Linked DNA regions of Homo sapiens: region 2 is linked to region 1. The links come from fine-mapping of genetic effects on gene expression. A gene starts in region 1. The other region holds a variant in brackets. All regions are shown on one strand. Distances are between the middles of the regions.

Evidence for each region. PIP is the estimated chance that this variant, and not a neighbour inherited with it, causes the effect. A credible set is the group of variants that fine-mapping cannot tell apart.
Region 2: its variant is the best candidate, but not a certain one, in a credible set for the expression of ASTE1 in substantia nigra (GTEx, PIP 0.60).

The regions. Positions count from the first base shown.
Region 1 is chr3:131,022,143-131,031,761 of GRCh38, forward strand. It overlaps ASTE1 (asteroid structure-specific endonuclease 1), which reads right to left and starts at 4,683. Exons shown (of 6, transcript NM_014065.4): 1 at 4,365-4,683; 2 at 3,332-3,452; 3 at 1,863-3,189. The coding sequence starts at 3,164. It overlaps NEK11 (NIMA related kinase 11), which reads left to right and starts at 4,735. Exons shown (of 18, transcript NM_024800.5): 1 at 4,735-4,864; 2 at 5,788-5,860; 3 at 7,471-7,736. The coding sequence starts at 7,567. RefSeq lists enhancers at 4,335-4,574, 4,715-4,774, 4,855-5,044.
Region 2 is chr3:130,957,869-130,967,487 of GRCh38, forward strand. It overlaps ATP2C1 (ATPase secretory pathway Ca2+ transporting 1), which reads left to right. Exons shown (of 28, transcript NM_001378687.1): 12 at 1,407-1,473; 13 at 6,103-6,227; 14 at 7,080-7,177; 15 at 9,277-9,372; 16 at 9,462-9,551. Among named protein-coding and RNA genes, the nearest start is that of ASTE1, 64 kb to the right of the region's middle. The variant T/C (reference allele first, on the strand shown) is at 4,683.

The sequences.
Region 1 (9,619 bases):
GGGCTTCCCTGAGTGCAGTGTCTTGTAAGTAGGATGTCCCTTGCAGGGACCTAGCTATGTTTATGGAATTATTATAAGAAAGACTGGATCCTATAGGGAACGGGGCTTTTAAGCTACTGAAACCTTTTCTTCTCCTTTATCTAACTGAGGTATAATTCATATGTCATAAAAGTCATCCTTTTAAAGCATACAATTCAGTGGGTTTAGTGTATATATATTTTTAGAGACAGGGTTTTGCTCAACAGGGAGCACAATCATAGCTCACTACAGGCTTGACCTCCTGGGCTCGAGCAATCCTCCAACCTCAGCCTCTTGAGTAGCTGTACCACCATGCCTGGCAAAAAATTTTTTTTTTTTTTTTTAGTAGAGACAGTCTTGTTGTGTTGCCCAGGCTGGTCTTGAACTACTGGCCTCAAGTGATCCTCCCACTTTGGCCTTCCAAAGTGCTGGGCTTACAGGCATGAGCCATCTTGCCTTGGTTTAGTATATTTATAAACTTGTGCAGCCATCACTAATTCCAAAACATTTTCTTCACCCCCAACCAAAGAAACCCTGGGGGTTTAACAGTCACTCGCCAATGCCAAGAAGGCTCTTGGACTCACTGCCCAATGCCAAGAAGGCTCTTGCACTCATTCACTATGACATTCATCTCCTCCTGTCTGAGATGTGACTGAAGAGGAGGCTAAGAGGCTAGTTCCTGGTCAGCTGTATAGCCCAGGGAATGGCACTACTGATATTTTGGGCTAGAGATTCTTTGTTATGGGACACTTTCCTGTGCACTGTAAGACTTACAGGTTGTAAAATTTAGCAGCATCTTTGGCCTCTCCCCACTAGATACCGATAGCAACCACTACCCCTTCTACTCCCTAGGTAGGGACAACAAAAATGTCTCCAGGCATTGCCAGATGTCCTCTGGGGGACAAAATCACCAATGGTGATAAAGCTTTGGTGTAGACTGATAACAGTGCTGGGAGAACTCTGACAGAAAAGGAAGACCTGACTTAAATCCACTGGGAAGCTGTGGTTGCCGTCCTACATCCTTAAGTAGACTGGTGCCACGTGTGGTCTGTGAGTTTTGTGAGACTGAATATTTCATTGGATCTAAGAAGATCCCCTAATGGGCATTGCAATTGTTTTTTTTTTAAGTTATCTCTATTTAATGTCTAAATCTAGTTCTTTTATCAGCATAGTTTCATATCTATTTGTAATTTTAAATATATATGTAATATAAAAAGACAACACTGGGATCCATGAGAATTTTTTTCTCCTTGAAAAGGTGGTCTGGGTGTTACTCAGGTTTAAGCAACACTAAGTTAGACTAAGAGTCATGTTTTCTGTATCAAACTAGGCAAATAACCATAATGACACAAAAACCTATTTTAAAAAAGGTATTCATTAATAAAAGTTAAAAAATTAGACCTTAGCATCAGTACTAACCTTATCTGAAATCCGATGTAGTCTGAGATGTTGTGCCTATGATTAGTGTCTATACACTTTTTTTGCAGTTGTGAATTTTTTTCCTTTTTTTTTCAGCCACGTAACCCATTCTATTGATAGCTAGTATTAACCTGGTAGTAATAACAATATAGTAGTAATAACTGTGACGATAACACAGACTACTGAAGTACAGTGGAAATGGTAGATTTAGAGCTAAAAGAGCTAGGTTTGAGTCCTAGCACTGACACTTTCTGGCTAAGACATTACCTAGTTCACTCAAGTTCTAGATTTCTTAGCTACGACATGAGGGCAAGATAGCACTCAACCTCATCAGTTTGTTATAGTAAGTGAACTAATATAGAAGACAGCACTTTGTATCCTGTAAAGTACTTTACAAAAATTTCATTAGTATTACAAATACTTACCTCAGTCAATCTGCTTAAGTCAGAATGATCCTTGGCCAGTTCTACTGCATCAATGATTGAGGTTCTGATATTTTTATTAATCCTTTCCACTTCACTGAAAGCTAGAGGCTGAGGAGGCAATGCATTCCAGGATGTCTTGTCCAGATGTGGTGAGGCATTTAAAAGAAGCCCATAGATGATTTGCCTGATGGGCTGAGATATTCTGTGGGCATTTGGTTGCTGCATGTTTTCCACCTGTGTGGGAAGAATGGTCCGTCTTAGGACCAAAGCATCACTGATGAAAGGAGATAGCTGGCCTTTAGCTAAAGCCACTAATACCCATTCTGGTAAACCAAGATTCAAGGCATCTGGACAGACATAAGTACCACACTGGAAGAAGTCCTGTAGCTTCACCTGGGACTGTTGGTATTCTTCCATGGAACAGCAGAGAAGTTCCTTAACATTTTCTCGATCCTTTTTTGGGAGGTATTTCAGAACATTATCTAGTGCTTCGGTAGGGTTGGCAAAATGAGACAACCAATTCAGAAGTCCCAGGATTCGGTGGTGTCTCCTCCCTTTAGAACTGGTAGCTCCAAGAGGAAGACGCGCTTTACTTAAGAATGTCTCCATGATGGGTAGATTAACATGGTCATTTCCACATAGCACCGCAAAGAGAGGTAGTAGAGCTTTATTCATATTGCTGAAGTGATGGCAGAATGCATCAAGGGAAAAGCATTTGGCAGGGATATAGTTTTGTGTGCCCTTAATAGTGTTCATATTTCTCCACTGAAAGCTATTCAATGGGCAAAACCCAGTTTTCAGGTCAAAAATGCAAAAGTCACTATCTGATGATAACACAGGGCAATTCCAATGGTTAGCAAGTGTCATAATGTCCCGATCTGCTTCTGAAAAGCACTGGACAAAACACACCCGCAGCTTGATCAAAACCTGTATGAATACTTCCCGGATGAGTAAGGGACATACGTACCCACTCCCACCAACAGAAAGGGAATGGGCCATCTGGATCTTCTCTCTAGCTCTATCCTTTAAAGTTGTAAGCTTTTTATCTGAAATGTCACATCCTCCATCTAATACAACATATGGGCATATATTACAAGCAAACAGTGATTCAAAGAATTTTTGTACAACATCTGCAAAAGAATCATAGTCCCCTCCATACCGGAGATCCAAGTTTGAACTGAAGCAAAGACGGTGGAAAAGAGCATAACCATCAATGACAATTTTTGTGTCCCGCAACTTCAAATCAGTGAAGAACTCATTACTATGATCTTCCACAAAACTCATTAGTCCTCGGATACCCATGATGACAGTCTAAAGAATTAATCGCCTGTTTAAAACAACAGAAAACATTTTCAATTGATGCTAGTTATGGGGCACCAAGTCATTGCTTCCAGCACCATTAAATCAATAGCAAATGTTATGAAGTGCTCTTTAGATAGAACATAGATATCAACATCATAAATTCTTACCTAGATCCTCAAGCAATGTTAGCTGTGCTTTTTCATTCTCCTTTGCTTTCTGATACAAGGCACAAATTCAATGGTTTCATGGGTTGTAATCTTTGGATGGTGACAGAGGCTGCTGCTAATTCTAAAGAAAAATCAGTTGAAGTCCATTACTGACACACCAGTATAGAAGTTCTGTGAACTTTGATTCTTAAGTGGTAATAGTCAACATCTTACAGCACAGAGTATTTGTTTTGTGGGGTCAAAGTAAAAAGTCCTAAGCTAAAAAAAAGATATCATATTCATCTCATAATCACAAAGCATTTGGGCTTCAGTAAAGTAAGGTGTGTAGGACCTATGATAAGGATCAAGTTTTTCTTTTGTATTGACAATCAGTCACGGAACTTCTTTCAGGCTTTGGATTTGTGGGCCCTTCTTAATTGGCATAGTTTTTGGTATAAGGAAAACTGCTTCATGCCTCTAGGAACCCCTCTATCCAGTTACACCCCTAACCACGAGCTCTTTTCATCATCTTATTTTGCATATCTGGCCCAGCTACGCTTCCTCACCTGGCTAACTTAACTCGCAGGATCAGAATTGATGGTTTTTCTTTTGACACCTCGGGCTTCAATATGGCACAGCACGGTACTGTTACTATTACTTAAAATCGTGACATTTTGTCAGTCATGGATTTTTTTTGCTATAATTTTGATTTTTAGAGATTGCATTAAAACTTACCTTGATTACTGAATTTTATTGGCATCCATTTACATTTTACACTTATCTCACCCTAGTTCCAGCCCTGTCAGTATCTCAGAACCTTATCCTGTATAGTACTTATTTCTTTGCAAGATAGTTTTGTAAAGCGTCCATAAGCAGAGACTGTGTCAAGGCGTCCTACGCAAATTACAGGACCTTGCACAGACAGTTGCATAGAGCTGCATAGGGGAAAGGCGGGCAAAAGGTCTGACCTAAGTCTTCAAACACAGGCCTTCATACACCGTGCCACCTCGGCCCTCACAACCCGCCGCCCGGACCTGCAGCAGAGCCCACCTACTCTGTCCTCCCAGAGGAGTAGCTCCTCCATCAGAAGCCCGCTAGAGCCCAGCGAGGACTGGCTCCTGCACGTGAGAGTCCAATCTCAAGAGCGGGAATCGGAAGTCTCCCGGTGTGACGTCTCTGGGAAGTACAGTTCCGTGATGCCGGTGGCGCCAGACTGAGCCAAGGAGCAGGTGTTCTCGGGCCCAGAGGCGCTAAGTAGCTAAAGAGGGCTGGGACGTACGTTCCGAAATGGCTGCTGTCAGGCTAGGAAAGCTTGGCCCGCCGGTCCTCCTCTGCTTTCTCCGCCTACTTGGGTCGGCGAACACTTCCGCCTTGGTGCCGCCTCGCCCCGACTTCCCAGTATGCCCCGCGCCGTCTCCCTGGCCACGGTTCCAAACAGCCGTGGCCCGCGGTGTCTGGCGCTCGGTGGGTGTGGTTGCCCCTAGTTTGAGGCCTGCCCGATTACCCGCAAGACTTGGGCAGCCCCGGGCGCCGCTCCGACCACGACAGGGAAAGGTAAAGCGAACTGTCCTCCTTGGGGCTAGCCAGGCTCCCCTGCGAGGGGGAAGGTAATGGTTTCAAGCTGCCCGGGCTGGGTTCCGAATCTCTAGGACGCCATGGCTGCGATCTCCTCGCTTTCCTGGACATCTTACCTCCGGATGTACTCCAGTCTCAGTGCCCCTCAATAAACGTTAACCTGCTTTGCCAAAATGTAAATGTTTAAAAAGGTGAAGAAGCAAGGAATTGTTCGTTTTACCTTAAGGTTAAGATTTACTTTAAAGGTAGATTTGTGCTGTAGCAGAAACTGGTGACAAATTGCCTTCCTCTTATTACCTGGGAAGATAACTACTGGTTTTCAACTTGTGATAAATACTCCTTCCGTTGTCTTTTGCCCCCAGCCAGATCTGTTTCACCGAGAACGGGTAGTTTGCACAAGGTAGTAACTTTCTCCAAGTTCCCATCTAGCTTTCTTAACTAACCTTTTTTCTCTCCTTTGGGCGGCAGTTGATCTGCTGGACACTTACTTGCCTTAACAAGGTTTGTTAAACACCTAGTATATGCCAGGAGGTATGCCAGGGATTGGGGATGCAGAAATAAAGAAGATGTGTTCGCAGTGCCCAAGTTCACTCAAACCTCGAGGGGGAGCGTGTTGTCAAGTGAACAGATAGTTCTAGAATCTAGACAATGCGACACATTCTTGGGTAGGTTTATGGTTGCGCAGAGGAGACTAATGGAATGGATGACCTAAAAGTGGACTGGGATGGGGGTGGCAGGGCTGAGTCTGTGAGGGTGGGCGGGAGGGAACCTAGTCCCAGAGTCTTCTGCAGCCTGGACCAGACTACTTAAGCACTGCTGGGTTTAGACTGTCCTTTAAAATAAGAGCCGCTAGAAGTGAACTTCTCATTCTGTCCGTCCCTAATTCTGTCCTTCTCTAAAAGGAACCTTAATCTCATCTTTAAAATAAGGAGAATTACTGAGTGACCTGAAGGACCCTTTTCAGCTGGAAAGTCTGTAAGTCCATATATTTATTTGAACAGCTTAGTATGGCCAGACGGCATCACTTTTATGACAGTGAAGGGGAAGTAAAAACAAAAGGTATATTTAGAGGCCTGCTCTGTAGTTGTTTTTCCAGCAGATTTTACTAACGTGTCTTTGGAAGGGAAAAGAAAAAGCTGGTAACTAATCTCACTGGTATTAGGTACAACTTAACTGATTCATACATTTTAAGAAGGAAAATGTTGTAAATGGGCATTTACTTATGTTCTGTTTTGAGGATTTTTGTGGTTAATTGCCCTAGTAGTTTTTGTGGTTGACGGACACCACCACGTAAAGCCCATTGACCATCCTTAAAAACTAGGTTTTTGTCTCATAGCTTTGGAATTGTTGAATATGAAAACCTAACTTCAAGGTGTAGGCAGTTTTCAATTTAAAATGTTATTTCTATATAGATTTAAAACAAAAGCACACTTTTCTTGATAACTAACAAAACATTTAACATTCTGATGAAATAAAAGTGATTTTACTTTGTACCTACTCATATGAAACAGTCCTGCCTTTCTTTTTTTTGTTTTTGTTTTTGTTTTTGTTTTTGTTGAGATGGAGTCTTACTCTGTCGCCCAGGCTGGAGTGCAGTGGCGAGATCTCACTGCAAGCTCCGCCTCCTGGGTTCACGCTATTCTCCTGCCTCAGCCTCCCGAGTAGCTGGGACTGCAGGCGCCCGCTACAATGCCCGGCTAATTTTTTTGTATTAGACGGGGTTTCACCGTGTTAGCCAGGATGGTCTCGATCTCCTGACCTCGTGATCCGCCCGCCTTGGCCTCCCAAAGTGCTGGTACTACAGGCGTGAGCCACTGCGCCCGGCCTAAACAGTCCTGCCTTTCATAACTGCCACGTCTCATAGCTCCCTGAGGAATTACAGATTTATCTGTAGCATTTATATTCCACTGACATTAAATGGGATTTTAGGTTTGAATTGAATTTGTAACTCTTCCTGTTTTTAATCCAGAGAGATTATACACAATGTGTACAATAGGAACTTCAGAAACTAGAATTTGCTGAGCATGGGAAAAAATTCTCAATCCTTATCCTTCTTTGCATCTGTCCTAATAAATACAAAAACTGTGGTTTAACATCTACAGAAAAAAATAAATCTAAAGGAAACAGCACCTGCTAATTCCTTGTTTAATCCTAACTCACTCTTTGTAAACCAAAGTAAATATAAGGTGAGAAGAGGGCATTACAAAAAGGTTGATGCAGATGTATAGATTTAAGGAGGTGATAATGTTCTTGTATTTGGATTCTTTTATAAGTAGTTGGGGAGTATAAATCTTAAATAAATGAAGAGATTGCTCATTGTAAAACAGATGTACATCCCAGAAATTTGTGGAAAGTTGGCTATAATTCACTTCTGCCAAATTTCAATGTACAAAGGGAGGCTCTTCCTGTGAAAGATTGCCTTCTGGAATTTGTGGTATCTCTACCTTTTAACATTTTTTTTCAAGTTGTTAACCAATATGGTGTCAGTCTGCTGATCAAGGTGCAGATATCACTGCACTTAACACTTTTTGTTAGACATCGTTTAGCAACCTTTAGACCTGATCTTTTAACTTTTCATCTTTAAGGAACTGACCAACACTGGATGAATTTGACCATTTCTTAGGAGACTGGAATGTTAAGTTTCTATAAATGAATGAACCAGTTCTCTCTTGTTTGGAGCAATGCTGAAATTCCAAGAGGCAGCTAAGTGTGTGAGTGGATCAACAGCCATTTCCACTTATCCAAAGACCTTGATTGCAAGAAGATACGTGCTTCAACAAAAACTTGGCAGTGGAAGTTTTGGAACTGTCTATCTGGTTTCAGACAAGAAAGCCAAACGAGGAGAGGAATTGTAAGTAAAAATGCTTCCTATGAATCTTGAGTAGGCTGCTTTTTGTTTGCAGGTCTTAGCTGATTAGGAACATGGAGCAGGCCAGGTATGGTGGCTCATGCCTGTAATCCCAGCACTGTGGGTGGCCAAGGTTGGCAGATCACTTGAGGCGAGGAGTTCAAGACCAGCCTGGCCAACATGGCAAAACCCTGTCTCTACTAAAAATACAAAAATTAGCCAGGCAGGGTGGTACATGCCTGTGATCTCAGCTACTTGGAGGTTGAGGCACAAGAATTGCTTAAACCCAGGAGGTGGAGGTTGCAGTGAGCCGAGATCATGCCACTGCCCTCCAGCCTGGGCAACAGAGCAAGACTGACAAAAAAAAAAAAAGAACATGGAGTAATGTCCACTTTGCTCTTTATACCAAAGCAAGTATTTCATAAATATAGGTAAGCTCCCTAATTAATCTTTCATATTAGGTTTAAAGGCATTTCAGCAGGTGAATAAAGTATCCAAATGACCTAAAGAAGGGAGCTAGAAATGGGATAGATTATGTGAAAATAAGATGTTTGGGCATGCCACAGTCTCAGTGACAATATTACTTCCACTTAACTTGATTGGAACTTCTTGAATGAGAAAATAAGAATTGTTCATAATGACTATTTTTAGAAATGTTACAAAATGCAAATAAACAATTATTCACATTTGAGATGAATAGGGTATACCAAAGAAAGTAACAGTATTAATTTTCTTTGGGCTTTCCATGGCGAGGATTTTCAAATTCCGTAGTCAGAAAGCTGTCAGATTAAACACTTAAACCAAATGGACACTCCTATTTAAAATTAGCTTATGTTAATGACCCCCTTGTCACCTCGTCTCTTTTGATTATGATCGGACCCTCTACACTTTCATAGTAGAGAAAAACTCTTAATAGCTTCAGACAGTACCTCCCTTACAGATAAACCTCTAGTTTTTGTGTAAAGTTTTTTTAATTTGCTGCAGTGGAAAGTAAGTTGGAACTGAAGTTAGGGTAAGAAACTTGCCTATCAGAAACACAGGAGGAACAGAAAGCAGAAGGAAGAATGATCCAAGATATCAGCCCTTAACCCCAGAAGACCACATTTTCATCCCATAATATATTGTTTTCTTCTAAGGTTTTAAGGCTACTCTAAGTTCTTCCAGCTTTTGCCTATTGGATATTTAAGAGTGGATTTAAAATCAGTGTGATAAACACTTTTCTACATCTTCATAGGTCATAGGAATTGTAAAGGTAAATGTTAGTGATGTTACTACTTTGTTTTAAAACTCAATCTTTTAAATGGTCTCTGTCCAGAATTTTTAAAAGCTGTAATTATCTAGAATTTATAGTTTTTAGTCAATTTCTACATGAGGGATGATAAAAGAGCTGGCATTTTTCTGATGTCCTTAGAACATGCATTATGATTCCTGCTGAAAAGGATTTTTTCTCTTTAATCCTAGAGGTGCTCTTCTAGCCATTTAGAATAGAATGATAAATTTCTGACAATTATTAGATAACCTTTATGGAAACATTGAGAGTAAGACCTAAACCAGACCCAGTACTTCTAAAAACTACACTGTAGGATCATATCCAATTTTGGTTTCTTCAACTAATGAGGAATATGAAAAATTTTAAGATAATTCACAGGAGGACTAAAAAGTTAATTAAAAGGATGTAAAATAAGATGTATGAAGATCAAACTTGAAACCTTTAGACTTAAGATAATAAGTGAGTGGAGAGAGTGTGTTTGTAGTCAGCGGGGAAGAGAGAGAGAAAGAGAATGAGAGAGAAGAAAGGGGGCTGGGGCTGGTTGGTTGGCAAGTGATTTGTTAGTGATCTTTCTTGTACCTGAACCAATCTTAAAAAAACACATGACTGGAGCTGA
Region 2 (9,619 bases), 64 kb before region 1:
TATTAGTTGAAATAACTTTGTAAATAGTAATTCTGTTTATCCATCTATCTTCATTGTAAACATAAAGTAGAAGGTAGGAAGTTATCTTAGTTATTTTTGTTTTACTGGTGTGTATGCCCTCATAACTTCTTCCGTTTGATTATTGCTCATTTTCTAGAAATTTTATAGTGAATTTGATAGATCGAATGACATTCTAGCCAATTAAATCTTTGTAGTTTCTATTAGCACTATACCATAAACCATTTCAAATTTAGTAATAAATATGTTTCAACTTTACGATCTCTGGTTATATGTTAGTATATTACATTGGACATAATTTTTCTTGCCAAGGTCAAGAGCTAGATCAGGGGTCAGCAATTGTTTTTTTTTGTTTTTTGTAAAGAACTAGATAGTAAATATTTTAGTCCATATGGTCTCTGTTGGAAATACTTTACTTTGCCATTAGCATGAAAGCAATCATAGAAAATATGTAAATAAATGAGTGTGGCTATGTTCCAACAAATTTCATTTACCTAAGCAGACAGGAGACCCACAGATTATAGTTTGCTGACCCCTGGTATAATCCTTTGGACATAATTTCTTTCATCATGATAGTATTTGGGATAGGATCTTAGAAGGTTGCTATTTGGATAATTATTCTTTAGTTATATAAAGATGAAAAAAAAAACTTGTCTTAAATGTTCATATTGATTTGCAGTCTTGAGATAGCTTATTTTATCAAACCTCTCGTGAATCTGTTTGCTTTTTCCTCACAAACCTGCTTGTGCGCCCCTTTCCCCCTATTCTTTTCAAAGATAAAAGGTTAAAGCAAGGAGTATTGGTTTAATTGATTTTTAAATTTTTGAAATGCCATAAAAGTAGTGATTTTTAGATGTTAATGCAGTTGTAGGTGCTTAACGTAAGGCACATCACTTTTTGAGCCAAGTCGTAAGTGTCCCTTTGTGTGTAGTATGGATTTGCTGAGAAGTGTCTGGATATTGTGTTATGGAAAATAAAGTTTTAGGGTTTAATTTTGCATATTTGATATTAAATAGAAGACCTATATGTTTGCTGCCACCTTCTTTTTTTCATTGTATGAACATACTGGTAATTTTTAAAAAAATAATAAAATATTACTGCTTTAAGGGATGGTAGGAGCAGTGTCAACCAAAAGTAAAACTGTGTGTGTGTGTGCATGTGTGGTGTGTGTGTGCACACATGTACGTATGTGAGTATGCACAGCATTCACATTAAGCAGTGTTAACTTTAACCTCCCCTGTTTAATGGATTTTTATAAAATCTTCTAATTGTGATCTGATATGCTTTCCCTTTTTTGTCAAGGGACGTTTTAGATTCCTTCAGCTTGTTCTGTTCCTTCTAGGTGATTGTATGTAAAAGGGAAAAATAACTATTTAATTATCTTTCAGGAATCATCATGTTGGTTGGCTGGTTACTGGGAAAAGATATCCTGGAAATGTTTACTATTAGTGTAAGGTAAGTCTCAATACTTTATAATTGGAGTCTCTTTTGCCTCTTTTATTTCTCTAATGGACATAGCTTACGTTTTATTATGGAGATCAGTATTACATGGAGCCCATAAGAGTATAACATCGCTACATAAATAGTTCAGAAGTCATATATTAAAATTATCCTTAGAAAAATGAAAATGTATGTATATGGTAATGAAGAAAACCCATACTAGATGTCTGGAATTACTAATGCATTATTGCCTTTTTATATATAAATATACAATTAAGGATTGTCAAATTGAAAACTAGCAACATGAAAGAGAAAGTTCACAATATAGAAATTGAATAATCAATTTCAGAGGAAAACGAAACATTGAAGAAATGATGACAAATTTAAAAACCAAGTGTTTGTATTTTCAGAGACTTGTGAAGAAACTGCATCCATGAGATAAATTGTTGTAGAAAAGGATCAGAGAACAAAAAGAGTTTTTAGAAATTAAGATTATGATTGTTGAAATTAAAAATTCAATTGTAGGGGTGTAATATAAATTCAAAGAGGTCTCCCCCCAAAAAGAGTAAAAAGTCTTAGAATGAGATAAAATGATGAAGAGGAATAATTTCAGGAAATACCACTTGTAACTAATTGGAGTTTCAAAAATTACATAAGATATGACACACAAGTATTTTCTCAAGCTAAGGCAAAAAGTAAGTCTTTATAGATTGAAAGGATTCACTAAATACCAAGCAGAATGGAAAAAACTTCAACCTTGATACATAATTGTGAAACTAAAGAAGAAAAGTCAGGTCATCTACAAAGGAAGGGTAACTACGCTGGCATCAGACTTCTCATTAGCAACTGCAGTTTCTACCACAGGATCTTTTTGGGTTCTTCTAAACATTCCAACTCACAAGACTTTCACAGACCACATCTGATACCTGTGCCCTGAACACAGCAGGGTAACTTCAGGCAGCCTTCTCCTGAGAGTCCGCAGCAGTCCATGTAGCAATTCACTCAAGTACAAGGAGATAAGGTCAACCTTGTGAGTGTGGGATCTACCTTGGGTTAAAATATCTCGTGTTCTATGAGAGACGTATTTTGAAACATGCATTTCCAGATGCCTGCAAAGGACATGTCTAGTTACAAGTTACTACACTTGAGAAACTCAAAGCTATGATTTCCTATAAGATAATTATAACTTTCCTAGTCCAGAGAGATTTTATTAGTCAGGGGATCCCTTAATCATAGCAGTGTTATCTAGCAGCATACTTGACATATTATTCTTACCAGGTCACTAGGTGAACAGAACTAGAGTTAATCAAATCCAGAAGGGGAAGATTATTTTATTAACTGTTCATCCACAGCAACATCAGATTGCATTAGAATAAGTGGAGCCGTGGTAACAAATTAGGGGGGCAATTGATCATAAATCTGTAAATTGGGCCTAGCCAAAGGATTGGTCCAATTAGTGACAAATAGGTAGGCAAGTACTCAGAACATTCATTTCCTACCCATCCTTATATGAATTCCAGCAAAACAAGGGTGAAAGAAAGGAAGATGATAATAGACATAAGAAAGGGCAAGAACTTACTTAGGCATCTAAGAAAAAGAAATCCTGGTAGACCTCTGTTGTAGGCATATGAAATATTTCAAATATTAGAACAAAAGTCAATGTCTTTCAAAAAGAAAAGTCAAATAGATTACAAGGAATCAGAATGAATAAGAAGTAAAAAGATATTTGTGATATAGTGAAAGAATGTGTTTTTTTTTTTCTCAAGGGAGGGGGTGAAAATGCAATTTGAAACTCTTGGTTTAAATTTGTGTTTAAAAACGCCATGGGTTAAATATAAAATACATTTAAAATGGGGAATAAGTTTGAGATATTAAACATTGACATATTATCCATTGGATCATTTTTAGTTTTTGAGGATTTGGGTTTTTTTTTTTTTGAGTTCTGTTTGTACAGATTGACATATCATAACTTCTGTTCTTTCTTCAAGGTCTTCCAAAGGACAAGATACTTAAAAATTTTCAAATAGAATAAAACTCATTCTATTTTGCAATTCTGTTTTGCAGTATGGATCCATTGGAATCTTTTATAAGTATAAGCTACATTATGGGACCTTTAATGATCCTATTTTTCCTCTTTCTTGAAGTATTTTACAATTTCTTCACCCTAGGAATTATTTTAACAATTATTTGCAAGAGTGCTGAAGATGACTAAAACAATAAGAAAGCAGAAAAATGATGGAATCATTGAGAAGGTTGATGTAATAATAAAGTAAATAATCACTATTCTCTTATTCTTTAGTTTTCTTATTGTGTTGCCTAAAGTATTGCATCATTTAAGAAGGTGTAAAAGAAGTCTAAAGGCACAATCTTTAGGTTTGTTTGTTACAGCTTTCATTGAACAAAAATGAGAATTCAGAATTTTTCACTTTCTACTATAATGGCAAAGAGAATAATTGACAGAGAAGACTTTTCACAATTATTAGACAAATCAGAAGATCAGTGCAAAGAGCCAAATAGAAGCACTGTAGGCCGTAATGATGTGGGTGAAATTAATAATATAAGTGAAATCTCAAGACTGAGTCTTTGGATGATGATACTCTAGATCTTCTCAAACACCTTAATTTTGATGAGTGAGCAATCTGTTTTTAAGGACAAAAAAGAAACAGGTATTCTCTTCCAGTTAATCATTCTGCAGCAAGGACTCTATCATGTAGTAGTTTTCAGCAAGAATCTGGACCATCTCTTTTAGCTAAACGAATGCATGACCCTATTTCATTCATCTTTTATGATGCTTGTTTATCAGCATTGACTTCATACTGCTTTTAAGTGGAGAAATGCTGAAGGCTGGTATGAATATAAAAGTGATTAAAAGGAAATAGATTATGCAGAAGTAGAAAAATTCATTGGATTCATCATTGTAATTGGTGTTTATAAATCTAAAATTGAAAATGTTTTGCAGTCATGGACCAAAGAAGATAACTGTTCTCTTTTCAACACAATTGGGAGCCATCAGTGGTTTTAGAAGTGTTGCAATTTGACAGAACAAATGCAAGAAAGAAGAACTAGATTAATAAGCTAGCGCCTGTTAGAAATATTTTTTGAAATCTGAAATCAATATTTATAAGATAAATATGTTCCAAGTTCACCAAAAGCAGTAGATGAGCAGTTAGTTGCATCCAAAAGATGTTACCCATTTCAGGTATAGATGCCTTCAAGTCCAGGAA[T/C]AGTTTTGGGTTATCATTAAAATGAAAATTTAGAGTGAAGTTTTTTTACAATTTAATTATTCCTCTGCAAAGTTTTGCTAAGATGACTTAAATATAAAAGATTGAAAAGATTCGTTGTATCTAGATTGTAAGTGATAATGCCTGTTTTTCCTTAATGGAAGCATTAAAAAAAAAAAAAAAAAGAAAAGAAAAAAGAAAAAAAAGGATTCCATTTGAACTAGGAACATTCTCTTTGAGTAGCCCAAAGGAGAAAAGGAAGTATTAATGATAATACATATTTCTTGACTCTTCAGTGTGTATTGTTTAGCCAATAATGTTGTTGCTTATGTGCTTTCAACTTTAAAATCAACCAGTAAATAAAGCATGAAAAAGTCAATTACGGTTATAGAAAAGGATGCTAATGTACTAGATTATGCAAAGAAAAAGTTGGTAATGGAAATTAGGAAGTAGAAGCAGCAGAGGGAACAGTGGTAGAATGAAGGGTTAAATTGCTTATGTCCTTATTTCTAGCAGATCAAGAAATAGTATTTGGAATGGCACAAAGAAAGACTTGTTATTTTTTAATTATAAAAGGCGAGTGAAATAATTCTTTAAACTGTGATAAAATACGCATATTATAAAATTTACAGTTTTAAAGAGTTAATTTGGTGGAGTTAAGTATGGTCGCAATGTTTTACAACTGTTAACCGCTATCTAGATTCAGAACCTTTTCATCATGCCAGAAGAAAACCCTGTACACATTAAGCAGTCACTCCCCAGTTTTCCTCTTCCCCTAGTCCCTGGCAACCACTCACTAATCTGCTATCTCTATGGATTTGCCTATTCTAGATATTTCATATAAATGAAATGATATAATATGGGACCTTTTGTATCTGTCTTTTTTCACTTAGCATAATGTTTTCAAGGTTTATTCATGTTGTAGCATGTGTTAGTACTTCATTCCTTTTTGTGGCTAAAGTAATACTCCATTGCATGGATGTCACAATTTTACATTTATCAGTTGATGAATATTTGGCCTGTTTCCATCTTTTGGCTATCGTGAATAGTGTTGCCGTGAACATTCATGTATGAGTTTTTGTTTGAACATTTGTAGTTATCTGTATTTTATAGATGAGGACAGTAAACTACAGAGCTAGATTAGTAAGTAGCCCAGGATCACACAAGTAAGAGATGGTGAAGCCAGGGATACAAATCCAGGCAATTTGATGTCAGAACCTACATTTTTTAACCACTGTGCTTAACCTGGCAGCTACTAGGTATCCAGTAAATGTTAACTTTCTCTTCCTTTTGAGAAGTTTATTTTTTAGGTATTGACTATATTAATTTTGCGTTTTATTAAGCTTTAAGTAACATCCAATTTAAATTTTGCTGTGAGTGCTGTTTAACCTACATTTTAATACTTTGTATATGTTGGTTATAGTTTGGCTGTAGCAGCAATTCCTGAAGGTCTCCCCATTGTGGTCACAGTGACGCTAGCTCTTGGTGTTATGAGAATGGTGAAGAAAAGGGCCATTGTGAAAAAGCTGCCTATTGTTGAAACTCTGGGTAAGTCTGTGTTAAGAGCATTCTTATGCAATGATGCGTAAGTTTATGTCAATAGTGAATCATCTCAGAGTTTTACAGTTTTTATCTTAGAGATTTGCATAATGATGTTTGGCTTATGGCAAAATTGGATATGGTTTTAACAACCAAAAAAGGCAATTAAAAATTCCTATCCCTTAGGTGAGGGGACTTGAAGAGAAATCTTTCTACATCATGTTCTAATGCACAAATCATGTTAAGAAAATCCATACAACAACTGAAATCTTGGAGTAAAATTAATAGAATTTTTTTCTTGTGACATGTCAAAGAAGATAATGTATTATTACAGATCCCAAATGTCATACTTGAGTTGAATTTGCCTGTAAGAACAGTAAATTTACAGTAGTTATATTGCTGTAACAAAACTTTATGTGCAATATGCTTTGAAACTCCAAAAATGTACTGAATTTAATTTCTAGTTTGTATTTTAATATCTTCTCCATATATGAGAAGCTGAAATACCTTGAAAAATCCTGATTGAAGAAATTATACGGGTTTATATTTAGAAACTCTCCAAACTTTCTAGAAAAGATGTTATATAAGATCATTACATAAAGCTAATGTGAAGTAGCTTTGTAGAAACTAACTGTATATAAATAAGAACATGTCATCATCTAATTTTTATTTTTAATTTCAGAAACTGTACCTTATGCTGAAACAAGCATAATGAGAGAAGTTAATCTAAAATTAACAATGAGTTTGATTTCTATAAAATTCAGAGAAGTAGGACAGGATTCTAGTCTTTGATTTGTTTTTTAAGTGAACCTATATTTCTCCTTGATTCTTTTGGTGACTTGTAATGATTTAATTCTTTAGGCTGCTGTAATGTGATTTGTTCAGATAAAACTGGAACACTGACGAAGAATGAAATGACTGTTACTCACATATTTACTTCAGATGGTCTGCATGCTGAGGTACTCTATAGGTTTTTAAAAACAAACAAAAACAGTATCCCTTTAAGAAACTTGGTGTTTAACATTCCTAACAGTTCCAGTGTCTTACCTTCAAAAGGGCTGTAAATTAGTAGTGGAGTTATTTTCTCTCTCTGTGATTTTACCAAGTCTTTGTCTCATTCCACTTGTACACTTGTTCAATCCAAAAACTTTGATTCCTCCTTGACATCTCTCTTTCAGTCACCCCTTCATCTATCCATAATCAAATCCTACCAATTTTGACTTCCTAAAGAATTTTCCCAGCCATCTACTTTATAGCCAGCTTCTTTAAGTTACCGCCATTTCTCACCTGCCATTCTGATAAAGCTTTTTGACTGGTCTTTTTCCATTCTTGATGCCCTCACTCCATAAGCAGTTTGAGGGATCTTTTTAGAACCAAATTTTAAGCATGTCACTCCATAAATTAAGGTACTCCAATGGTTTTCCATTGTGATCAGGATCCTGAACTGTGGCGTCTCAAAGCCGTACATGTTCTGTCCCTTATTTTCTCCTCTACCCTTATATGCTACCCTTTGCTTTCTGTGCACCAAGTATACTGGCTTTATAGTTCTTTCGATGTGACACAATTATTCCTACTTTAAGAACTTTGCTGCCTTTGTCACTGTTTAGGATAGTCTAATGCCTCTTCATCCTTTGCACCTTAATTCCAACCCACTTCTTCAGAACACCCAGAAGTGGCCCTATGTTATATGTTGTCTTAGCATTTCATACCTCTTAGTCCTTATCTTAGGTAAAATTTTCTGTCCCTTTTCCCCATTATAAGAGAGCAGGAGCTATATTGCCTAGCACACAGCCTGCTTCATAGTAATAAATACTCGATAAATGAATGAATGAATGAATCACTTTATTTTAACAATTATATATTGATACATTGTCTCTTAAGTGCACATCACTGTGCAGTAGTTCTTCCTGAAGGTGCTTATGGACAGGTCTAATCCTACTCAGTCTATGCAGGATTTCTGACTGGAATGCTCTTAACACTACTTATGTTGGGTACAGTGATTTAAAATGTATTTATAGCTAATTCATTGAGAAAAATAAGCAGTAGGCAAATTGACAGAAGTTGTACTTGGGTTTATTTACGTCCATTTTACATAGGTTTTGAAAAGAGACTCTTGATATTTACGGTGTTAGATCTGGTCAAAGATCCCCCATGCTGTGTTGGTGAATGTGCCCTTTCTGGATGATTCAGAAGGGTCATTGGGATTACATGTGCTTATATGATCCAGGTATGGAAGGTAGAATATTAGTTTTTCTTTTGTTTTAAGGTCATGCTATATGTAATGCATTAACTATTTGTTAATTGTTTTATCTCTCAATTAATGTCATTAAACATTTTTTATTTATTTTTATTTTTAATAGAGATGGATCTTGCTTTGTTGCCCAGGCTGGTCTTGAACTCCTGGGCTAAAGTGATTCTCCTGTCCCAGCCTCCCAAGTGTTAGGATTACAGATGTGAGCCACCACACCTGGCCACTAAATTGTATGATTTTTATTGTGAAATTTCTTTTCGTTTGGCTTGGTTTGTTCTAGACATATGATATAAATACCTGGTTTGTCTCTACCTCTGATTTTTAAAATTGGTGTGTAATATGCTGTGTTAAAGTGATTTGTAAGTGCTAGCATATATCTCAATGTCTCCAGGCCTGCATGTTTGCAAAAAGAATACTGCTTTTGTCTAAGTCACAGCTTTGTGTTGTATGTTACATATGGTAATGCATTTGAGTTCTTTGCAAACTGTAGTATGCTATATAAGTGTAATGTCATATAAGTTTAAGCTTACTTATGTATATTTTCATAGCTTATTCTTTTAACAGTATATTGTAATTAGAAAACAATGTCTTTTTAGATTAATAATTGTGATGAGAATTAGAATCTATATTTCTTTACTAAATGTCCTTTTTAAAGACAAATTTTAATGCTTTTCTAGGTGAACACTTTTAACAGTGTCATTATAAATAAAATGAACAGAACTCATTATAGTTTTTGGGTTTTATAGGTCTTGTCACCACCAAGTGTTTGTAGTGTTTGTATTATTGATCCCACTTTGTGATCTTTAGGTTACTGGAGTTGGCTATAATCAATTTGGGGAAGTGATTGTTGATGGTGATGTTGTTCATGGATTCTATAACCCAGCTGTTAGCAGAATTGTTGAGGTAAATATTTTTTTTTCCAAGATGGTGACTTTCTTCATAATAACTTAAGACACAGTGATAGGTTCATAGTTTATGTGTATTTTTCTTAGGCGGGCTGTGTGTGCAATGATGCTGTAATTAGAAACAATACTCTAATGGGGAAGCCAACAGAAGGGGCCTTAATTGCTCTTGCAATGAAGGTACGTACCTAAATTTCTCTTCTTTGACATTTGAGACACTGCCCTCACAACAGAATGCAGTGTCATCA